Regions from separate parts of the Homo sapiens genome. Here region 2 is linked to region 1. Evidence: fine-mapped expression QTL. A gene starts in region 1. The other region holds a variant in brackets. All regions are shown on one strand. Distances are between the middles of the regions. Region 1 holds the start of TRAF3IP3 (TRAF3 interacting protein 3). Region 2 overlaps UTP25 (UTP25 small subunit processome component).

The links. PIP is the estimated chance that this variant, and not a neighbour inherited with it, causes the effect. A credible set is the group of variants that fine-mapping cannot tell apart.
Region 2: its variant is the best candidate, but not a certain one, in a credible set for the expression of TRAF3IP3 in whole blood (TOPMed, PIP 0.53).

What each region holds. Positions count from the first base shown.
Region 1 is chr1:209,753,225-209,758,607 of GRCh38, reverse strand. TRAF3IP3 (TRAF3 interacting protein 3) reads right to left here and starts at 2,555. Exons shown (of 17, transcript NM_025228.4): 1 at 2,299-2,555. RefSeq lists enhancers at 1,983-2,392, 2,673-2,832.
Region 2 is chr1:209,848,935-209,854,317 of GRCh38, reverse strand. It overlaps UTP25 (UTP25 small subunit processome component), which reads right to left. Exons shown (of 12, transcript NM_014388.7): 12 at 1-3,114. The coding sequence ends at 2,871. Among named protein-coding and RNA genes, the nearest start is that of UTP25, 24 kb to the right of the region's middle. The variant A/TA (reference allele first, on the strand shown) is at 2,139.

The DNA.
Region 1 (5,383 bases):
CTAGCTCTAACCCCTTGGGGTTTATTTATAGGCCAAACAGACTCAACAGGTAGCAGACTCTCTGCCCCTTTACTGGGACTTCGCTACTCTGGCTCAGTCTGGAATTCTCTGCAGGATTCTTGTTTTCTCTCTGATCCTACCACTCATTCCCCAGGGTCATGGGTGGGGCAGTCTTCTTCCCTGAGAGGAGTTTTGTGTGGTCAAGCCCTGGACACTCAAATGCCTGACTCTTGAGGGTTGGAGGGGCATACTCTGGTGTCAGGCAGCATTGATTCCAAGCAGAAATGTGAGGTTATTAATGTTTGTCCTCTACATACCCATTCTGAATGGCTCTCTTCTTTGTTTTTCCTTACTTCTTCTTCTCGGATAAGGGTGGGAGTGGGCATAGGGGGTGGTCCCTTGACTTCTTCCCTGCCACTTTCTTTATTTAAAGACTTAAAAGAAAGGGTCTGAGAGACCCATGTCTATTGTTATAAATGACTGAATGGAGGAGACGCAGGATTATGTGCATGTGAACTCCATGTCTAGAACCTACACTCACAGCATCCCTGAGCCACAGCCCCTGGCTATTCTGCCATGGATTGCAGTGGAGAACCCTGGCTCTTGGAGTCACACTGCGTGGACTCATGTCCTGGCTCTGTCACCTACAACCTGTGTGTGTTTTTAGATAAGCTATTAAACATCTCTAAGCCCCAGTCTCCTCATTTATAAAATGGGGCTAGGACCTGCCTTGTAGGTTATAAGGATTAAATGACAAAATGCAGGCCATGCACCTGGCATGGAGCACACAATAAATGTTACCTTTTAATAATAAAGACATAAAGTATTCCTATTAGGTTGGTGCAAAAGTAATTGCGAATATTATCCTTGTTATGCCGATGTTGGATATTGAAGACTTGGTGCTGTAAGACAAAGGCTCCAAGCTAAACTAGCACTTCTAGGACCAAGAATGCCTTCTCTCATCCTCTCAACCCTCTCTCTCTTTGACAGAGTATATTGTTTACCAGATTGAGGGGATGCTGGCCCCAGGCTGAAGTCACATTTACTTCTGACCTCTGGGTTTGGGCTATAAGGAGAAAGGCTTCTCTGTGGTCTGGACATAATTGCCATCCCAATTACACCAAGCCGAAAGGTAAGGAAGAGATGGGGTCTGCCTGTGTCACACATAAGGTGTGAGGTCCCCTCCCTGTTTGGCTCAGCTTCCCCACAGGTTTTGTAGTGGAGGCAGAACATTGAGAATCCTCCTACCTTCTTGCCGCGAAGAGGAAAGGGCTGTGGGGGAGAAGACAGTGCCTGAGATGAGGTCTCTCTGGGCTCTCCACCCAGGCCACCAACCTTAGTCCACTGAAACACACAGCTGCTCTGCTCTCTGCTTCCTTGGGGCAGACATGGAGCCTTCTTACCCAAGAAAGGAGCTGCAGTGGAAATGGCTCCTTAGAGAGGGGAGTGTTCCCAGATGCCTTGGCTACCACACCTGCTAGGATTTGGTGCAGCATGCTGCATAGAACCCTACCCAGGTTTCTGGGATATCTGGACCCTACTGACTTGCTTGAAAACAAGAAGGTATGTGGGACGGCTGACAGGGGTAGGCTGCTAAAGAAAAGGGAACTGGTCCCTGTAGGGTTCAAAGAAAGATCACTTGGCCACTGCCCAGGCTTTCTGGCATCTCTCAGGTTCCCCCCTGGCAGCATGACTGGGCTCACTTAGAGCTTGGAGGAAGAAGGTTTACTGGCTGGGAAGGCTCAGCCTGGTCTCTCAGGCTGCAGAGAGAGAACAGGGCATGGCTCCTCACCTGACTGTGGCTTGACATGCCTTTCTGAGTCTCGCTTTTACTTCCTGGCCATGTTTGTAATGGAGACAATGAATGGCTTCCTGCATGGGTTGGCCTTCCTGGCCCAGAGCTCTCAGTGTGAACTGAGGGGAGAGGGGCCTGCGCTTAAGCTGCTGGGAAGGCAGTCTTGTGTTCAGGGATCCCTGCTTTGAAGAAAACTGTAAAAGGTCATTTAATTCATGCCCATATCACTGGGTAGCCTGAACTCTAAGTCGTTTGACTCACTCCTAATCTAATGTAATCTAATCTACTGGAACAGAGGAGTGGTGCAAGCTGTACCCTGTGCCATGGCTAGCGCCACAGGAAACCAATACAGGATACTTTCTTGGTTACCCAAACCCCTGACACCCTTAAACTATGCCACCCACTCTCCACCCAGGGGAGCTGGGATGGTAGAGCATCTTCTGCCCTACCCCGAAGTTGGAGTTCCCAAACCTGGACACAAAAGCATCCTCCTTCTCAGTTACCTCCTAGTCCCAGGCTCCAACTCAAGCCACTCGGGAAAGCATTCCAGTCCTGGGCAGATCTTGGCTCTGGTCTCAGATGGAGCAAGACAGCAGATGGGTAAAGCACACGCTTTCAATCCATAGGTCTGGGCCCCATTAACACGTCCCTTCTTGGTACCGTCTTTCTTTTTGCACAGCAGCCTTGCTGAAACAGGAAACAGACAAAGCCACAAGGTTCGCAAACCCCAGTTCCTCTCTCTTGCTCTCTGGTATCATCTAAGTGGGCCCCTGAACTCTGAGGCCTCCAGGGCTGGGCTCAGGAGCTCCTCCCATCAGTAGGCACCCCGGCCACCCTTTCTCTTGCTACTGGATTGGTCGGAGCTCTTGGACAGTTTCAAGTCAAGATTCCTTTCCATGATTAGAAAAGGATAGTCCTCTGGGTCAGATTCAGACCTTTGTGGTTTCTATGAGAGGGAAAAAAATGCCTTTTTGGTGGTAAGACCTAGATGAGATGTTCTCAGTGTAGGCTTTCATGTGTATCAGGTAGTTCTTTGTGTAAGGATTTTCCTTTTTCTTTAGCCACCTCTTCCCAATCCTGGTGTTGTAAAGAGTTTCTGCTCTTCTGAAGTAGGTGGTGTCTTTCTCAGATTCTGGAATGAGACCAACTCTGGATTTGCTCCTTTCTGGAGCAATGAGGAGGGAGTGTAAAGGTGGGTAGCTGGGGGATGAAGGAAGGAATAGAAGGCAGAGTCTTCTACACATTTTTTTATCTGGTCAACCGGACTAGGAAATTTAGGGAAAAACTAAAGGGAACTGATTTGCATGCATTAAGATGAAGCCATCACAAATGATGCAGCCAGGAAATTCCCAAGAAGTTCAGGCTAAAATAGTGGAGAGGAAACTGGATTGGGACAAGTTAACTGAGCAGCTTTGTAACCTTGTAAAATTCACCTTGTCTGGATGCTACTCACTGTGGTAGTTGGGTGATGTATGTGGCTCTTTGGAATTCTAAGGTTTGACACATGTGAGGCAGGTAATGAGACTTAAAAATAGCTGTGATAACATTTATTAACATGTGGAGAGTTTGTCACCATTTTCTCTGCTTCTGCTTCTTTCTCTGTTCTTTGAGGAGAAAAAGGACAAGGAATCGGCAGGGAAAAGCAGAGGATGGATTCTCAAGCACTAGGACTGAAGACAAGTGGCATTTACTCAGGATGAGAGACAACAGCTCAAGGCCCTGTGTCTGGAGCTTGACACATAGAGATGGGAATGAGTAGAGGACAGAGGGCTTGGGGAGCCCAAGATGTCAGAAAAAGAGAATTTTGGCCGGGCACAGTGGCTCACACCTGTAATCCCAGCACTTTGGGAGGTCCAGGTGGGTGGATCACTTGAGGTCAAGAGTTCAAGACTAGCCTGGCCAACATGGTGAAACCCCATCTCTACCAAAAATATAAAAAATTAGCCGGATGTCATGGCATGTGCCTGTAAACCCAGCTACTTGGGAGGCTGAGGCACAAGAATCGCTTGAACCTGGGAGGCAGAGGTTGCAGTGAGCCAAGAATGTGCCACTGCACTCTAGCCTGGGCGACAGAGTGAGACGGAGTTTCACTCTTGTTGCCTAAGCTGGAGTGCAATTGCGCGATCTCGGTTCACTGCAACCTCCGCCTCCCAGGTTCAAGCAATTCTCCTGCCTCAGCCTCCTGAGTAGCTGGGATTACAGGCATACGCCACCATGCCTGGATAATTTTTTGTATTTAGTAGAAATGGGGTTTCAACCATGTTAGTCAGGCTGGACTCAAACTACTGACCTCAGGTGATCCACCTGCCTCGGCCTCCCAAAGTGCTGCGATCACAGGCATGAGCCACCACGCCTGGCCAGAGAATTTTTATTGGCATAGAAGAGTGAGAAGATTCTGGGAGTTCAGGGCATTAGAGCGTAAAGAAAGACAGGAGATTTTAATAGGAGTTCCTATAGAGACCTACTATTTGGACTCCATTAAACATCAGAAAGAAATGTCTACAAAGTCCGCAGTCATTGGGATACTAATCCCATGATAACTGGGATTTAGAGTGGTCAATGATATGCTCAAGATCACACAGAAAGTGTTGGACCCAGGTTTGCTTGACAGTAGGTTTGAGCCCTTAACATTGTGTTCTGAGAACAAAACAATTAATAAGGTTGTCATACCTATCTATCTATATTGAAAAAGACACACACACACACACAGAACTTTGAGAATAGAAAATATACCTTATTTTCAAATGCCCACGAGACATTAAAAAAATTGACCATATGGATCAAAAAGTAAACCTCAGTATATGTTTTGAAAAGTTGATCTATTATGGCAGGATTTTCTGACCACAGTACAATACAATTGAAATAAATAACAAAAGATGGAAGAAAGAAACACTTTAACTTCTTGGAAAAAAATTCTTCCCATTTACTCTGAAAAGATAGAGGGAATTTCAAATCTGCAATTAAGAATGCATTGAAAACGGTGATAGTGGCAACATTATGAGGAAAATCTGTGAGGTATGGCCAAGCAGAATGCAAGGAAAATTCCTAGCTTTAAACATTTTCATTACCTAAATCAAGAAGATTAAAAATAAATTTCCTATTCATTTATTTTCAAATGAATTGCTAAAAAATGATCAGAAAAAAAGGAGGTGAGAATTTTGAAATGATAAAAGGAGAATATATAATAAGTTAGAATCCTGTTTAAAATTGATAAAAAAAATTCAGTTTTGTGTGTGCATCTGGCAGGGGGAGGAATGGTAGACATACAAATAGAAAACAAAATCAATAAAATAAAATATCAGCGAGCCAAATCAATTTAAAAAAGAGAAAAGACATTATAAAAGTTTAGGAATGATACATGGAAAGTAGCCACGATACGGTGGAAATTAATTATAGAGAGTCATTTGTGTAACTATGCTAATGATTTTTAAAATCTAGATAAAATGGATTTAAGAAAATGAATTTACCAAATTAAGCTCAAGTAGAGATTTGTAGTGTAATCATCAGCTGGCCTCCAATAGAGGGTTTAATTCAGGCTGCTCTTGAGCTGGGCACCAGGCTTTTAGTGGCCAGTATCCTTTGCTTCTC
Region 2 (5,383 bases), 96 kb before region 1:
AAAGTGCTAAGCTGGTTGTTTTAACTATGGGAAAAGAAAAAACATTTAAAAGTGTTACTTTCTGGGTAAGTTCCTTTCCATACCTTTTAATTCCACTGTTTCCAGGATTGGGACCATCCTTTGTCTATATTTCAGACCCTATATAGGCACTTGCTTGCTGCAAATGAGCCTTGTTAACATCAAGGTAGTGTGTAATTCCAGCTCACGCATCCGTATTTCAGTAGCCTCTCTTCTCGCTTATTGTGTGTTGAGAGAGACCAGATCTTCAAGGCATCCTTTTAATAAAACCATTGCAGAGACTCCACTCTGCAATGCACTAAGGAGCCAGGGCTAACTGCAGAGGCTTACCTTCTTTTCAGGTGCTGAGCCAGGAACAAAGCAACACTACTTTGTTCACACTTGAAATCCTCAGTGTTCTCTGCAGGCAAGAAGCAGTTGGCTGGGTTTGGCTCTATGCCAGCATGAAAATCACTAGGGGTGCTTAATAAAATGGTTATTTCTGGGGCTACATCATGGATTTGAAATCCAGACTCACATGTGAGTGGAGAGCCAGAGAAGCTGGAGATTTGGGAGTCGTGTGAATAGTAATAATGGAAACCACGAGATGAACTACAATTCACAGGCAAAAGAATATGGCAGTAGAAAAAGATGTAGGTAATTGGCCAGGCGTGGCGGCTCAGGCCTGTAACCCCAGCACTTTGGGAGGCTGAGGTGGGCAGATCACTTGAGGTCAAGAGTTTGAGACCAGCCTGGCCAACATGGCAAAACCCCATCTCTACTAAAAATATAAAAAATTAGCTGTGCATGGTGGCATGCGCCTGTAGTCCCAGCTACTTGGGAGGCGGAGGCACGAGAATCGCTTGAACTCGGGAGGCACAGATTGCAGTAAGCCAAGATCATGCCAGTGTACTCCAGCCTGGGCAACAGAGCGAGACTCCATCTCAAAAAAAAAAAAAAAGATCCAGGTAATTACAGTCCCTTCGCCTCACATTTCTGAATGAGGTAAATAAACTCATTTCTTATTCTCATAATATACAGGATCTATGATAAACAGCAGCACAATTACGCCAGTAACCACAGGGCATGCCTATAGATACAAAAAGTTCTTTGTAGCATGGGTTCGGTCGGCTTTTATCTAACTAAATTTTCTGAAATTTAGAAAACCATCTAAATATGGAATAAATGGTTTTACTTACCATGCTGAAGAAAAAGAAGTAAAAATGTCTAAATATTTAGCAGAAATATTACTTCAAAACTGATTTTACTTTTTGTTTTTGCTAAGTAATTTTAAGCGTGCCCAAGGATAAAAAAAATCTGTACCAATCATGGGTTATTACATTGAGGATAATGGGAGCCACTGTCTGAGAAAGGAGTTATCAATATGGAAAGAAAATGAGAAGCAATCCTGTGTTGTTGGACTAGAATTGGAGGTACTGGTGTGAATTCATGGTTTTCAATATATGGATATGAAAGTAAATTTAGATATTAATGTGAAGCAAATTTAGACAACGTGTGTACATATGTGTGTGCATACATGTACACAATTCCCAAGTTCTGACCACTGAGCCTGGGATGAGTGGCACCACAATAGTAAGCACTCCAATCTAACCTTTTATAATAATTTCCTACTAAAAGCAAGCAGGGCTGGAGTAGAGAAACCTGGAATGTCTCATTGTCAAAAAATACAGCAGTGCCCAAGTAGATGGGGGACATGTCAAAAGTACACAGGGGCTAACCTGAAGGTGCTCCCAGCGGCCATATTTGAGACCAGTTACGCATCTAAAGAAATAATGATGTAACAAACCGTAACCCATTGAATAAAAGAAGAAACTACGAGTCCATACTAGGATGAGTTGAATATCTCTTATCTGAAATGCTTGGGACCAGACGTGTTTCGAATTTTTTTGGATTCTGAAATATTCACATTATCCTTATTGGTGGGGCATTCCTAATCACAAACAATACCCTTAATTGTTTACAGGAAATATATACTAAAGTATTTAAAGGTGATAGGCCCACTGGGTTGGCAACTCACTCTCAAATGGTTCAGGTTCTGTACTTGGAATTTTTCTGTTTGAGAATGTTTCAAAATAAAAATGTTTTTAAAAGTGTAATTTCCTTTTTATTTGCATCTGTTT[A/TA]TGACTGAAAAAATGACTAGTTATTATGAAGACACTACTGTTGAAGATGGATATTTTAACATGGAGTTTCAACAAAATTACTTCTTGAGACAGAGCTGATGTGTTTTTTAAATAACGTGATTTTAAGCATATATTTGAACAAAACTAAAACATTTAGTATTATGAATATGAAAAAAGATCAGTAAATCAATGTACTCTTCTAGGCTGAATTAAGGTAGACTATTTAAGGTTTCAAAAAAGTTTGGCTGGGGCAGAATAAGTTTTACAAAACCCATGCCATCCAAAATTAAGATGACATGTAGCAGCAAGAAGTATTCCAATGTCTCATAACCAGTTCTCGCAAGCAATGTGTATTCCTTACTTTAAGGAAGTGTCAAACAAATAGAAAAATCTGGAAGAATTTACTAAGTGTAATAAATTAGAGGTAAATCGTAATAAAAGAATTTATGTCTCACAAAAATATTCACAAGTGGGAGTTTTCTTCTACCAACTTCTCAGAGTCCTTCTAGCCCCCTCTTCACTTCTGAAAGATGGGATTTACCAAAATCTGGTTTACATTTAACTTTTCAGGGACACATGACCTGAAAAGAAAGATGTCAGATAATACTGACATTGCCTCATGCACTTTCTTTGTATCAGTCCTTCTTCTGTAAGTAATCAGAATTGGGTCCAAATGGCATAGAATCAAACATTATGTATCATGCCAAATACCACTTCCTGCCCAACAAAATTTCATTTTTCTCCAGTAATGAAGAGGTGGACATTCTTGTTGGACTGTAGCATCTGTGCCGCCCGCTCCACACCAACCACGGCAGCTAACCTCTGGGCATCATATTTGGAGTAGAGAACAGTGCAGGTCCACGTGGCCTCTTCTCCTCTGTTGGTGGCTCTCAGCATATTACAGATTTCACTGTAAAAGTGTGGATATGTCGGCAGTTCATAGAAAATCAGGTTCCTGATGCCTTTTATTGTATACCTGTCAGAATTGGAAAGAAAGAGCTATGTCAACTTGAGAAACAAGTTCTAGAAAAACTACCTAGGAGTTGTACAGAGGCATAGTTCATGCTTGTTGCTTCCTGCTAATGGAGAAAAACAGTGGCACAAGTAACAGAACAAAAGTTATTCTAACTTGAGGTGGCAACATATTTGAATTCTTTTTATGACAACATATTCGAATTCCTAATATTTGGCTTAAGAAAATGATAAAATAAATACACATTTCTTGATCCTACACTGGGTAGGCTGAGGTATCATGGGAAAGAATAGTAGACCAGGATTTAAAAATCTGTCACAGAAAACTTAAAAAGCAGGCACTTAAAATGGAACATTAGCCTTATTATAATCAGGCAAAAAAGAATGGAGACAAGGTCAGACCCAGTACATAAAATAAGTTGTACAGATTGTAAATACACTCCCATTAGTCTTTTCTTGCCACTCTGGATACATGTTAACTCCATGGCAGACGTCCCAAGTTCATCCATTTACAAAACCCTGCCCAAGGACCCACTAGGCATCATGAGAAAGCAATTAGTTTCAACAGCGTATGCATTTCCATCTCTTTCCCAGCTGCACAGTGCCGCCCTGTGGTGGGGGGTGGTGTACACCCAAGGGACTGACTTGCAGTATGGTTCAGTCAGGCTGACGTCAACCGTTCCCCTGTGGGATTCCATAACAAAAGATTTTATATGTTGACAAGCTTCTGATTTTTCCTGTTAAGTTTCTCTCATACACTGAAGACGTTAGACTCCCTTGGGGATTTTATTTCTTTCACAGAAGGTAAGTTTTCCTTGTCTTTTTCCCTCACAGCTCATCCTGATCTCTCTGGAGACCTTCCTTTCCCAAACCATGACTGTGATCTATTATGTGGTTCACCTTTCAACATCCTTTCCATAAAGAAGGAATTCTAACGGCTAATGAACTTGAATAAACTGTTCTACCTCACTAGTTCTCAAAACAAAAACAACACTGAGTTCTACTTCTGCTTAGAATGTATAAAACTCGAGAATATTGCTCCTATACCAATAAGAAAAAGTCAGATAATCTATTATACAAAAATGTTCCTTTTCTTGAGCCCAAAGAGCTACCATCATGAAGCAATCAGGTAACCTGAATTAGGTGGTGAGCTGGTGTATGTTTAATAATTGGTCCTCAGTGGGAGAAAGGGAGGGTGCTAATTTGAAGGATTTGTCAGTTTCAAGCTACCAATGTCATGCTGCTGACCCAGAGATGTGCAGCCAGGTCTCATGAGCCAGTGTGAGCCAGCTTCAGCTCACCATGGACTGAGTTCCAAAGAGTAGCCCTTCTGAGGAAAAACGGGACACAGGAACTACTGCACCTTAGGCAGAGCACAGGAGAAAGATGGCCTCTGCCAAAAAAGTGGGTAGTAAGAAAATAGATACACTTCTAACACATTCTTAAAGGGCAAGAATAGGCTTGCCTGACTTCAGGACCCCAGGGATCCCTGGATGCTCCTTTAGTTCACATCCACTCATGAGCTTGTTCCAGAGGCCTGCACTGGGAGCCCTGGAGAAAGCAGAAGACCCGAGGGAGACCCCACTGGTGGTAGGGACATGAAAGCCCACCTACTTCCCAGGCCCATTATCGTGAAACCCATGGTAAAAACGTGAAGCACACGGGGGAGAAGAAAGGAGCCACCCTGTCCCCCACCCCTAATCGCAGGCAGGCAAAGGCAAACCACTTGAGGGGGAGGGTGAGTAGAAGCAAAAGTTGTCTGCCCTTAAGGGAAGGGCAGTAAACCCCCACCCTTCCATTTGTCCCCCACACAAGACTTGTACCCAGTAAAAAGCATTCTGCCCCAGAGGAAGGGGTAAGAAACCTGTTCAGCCCAAGTTCCTGCACTGATACAAGCAGAGTTCGATTAGGGAAGAAGCTGTATACACTTCACCACAAAGATCCCTCACAGATAAAAGGTGGAGTCTGGCTGCCACGGAGGTAGCGGGGCAGGAACCCTGAGAAAACCTCACCCCCAAAGCTTGGAATAAAAAGGGCCTGCCAAAAATTGAGCTGGACCAGGAGAACCCCCTCCCCCCGACTTCATGCCTTGCAAGGAGAAACAAGAGGCCTCCTGTGAGGAGGGGTCTGAGTGTGGAGTGAGACCCTCCTCTGGCACACGTGTCAAGGCCTCAGTGACAGCTGAGCAATCAGGACACTGAGAAAAACCCTCCAGCACCCGAGACCCTACACCAAGCCCACTGTCTGCTGGAGGAATTTGAGGTCTGTGGTGT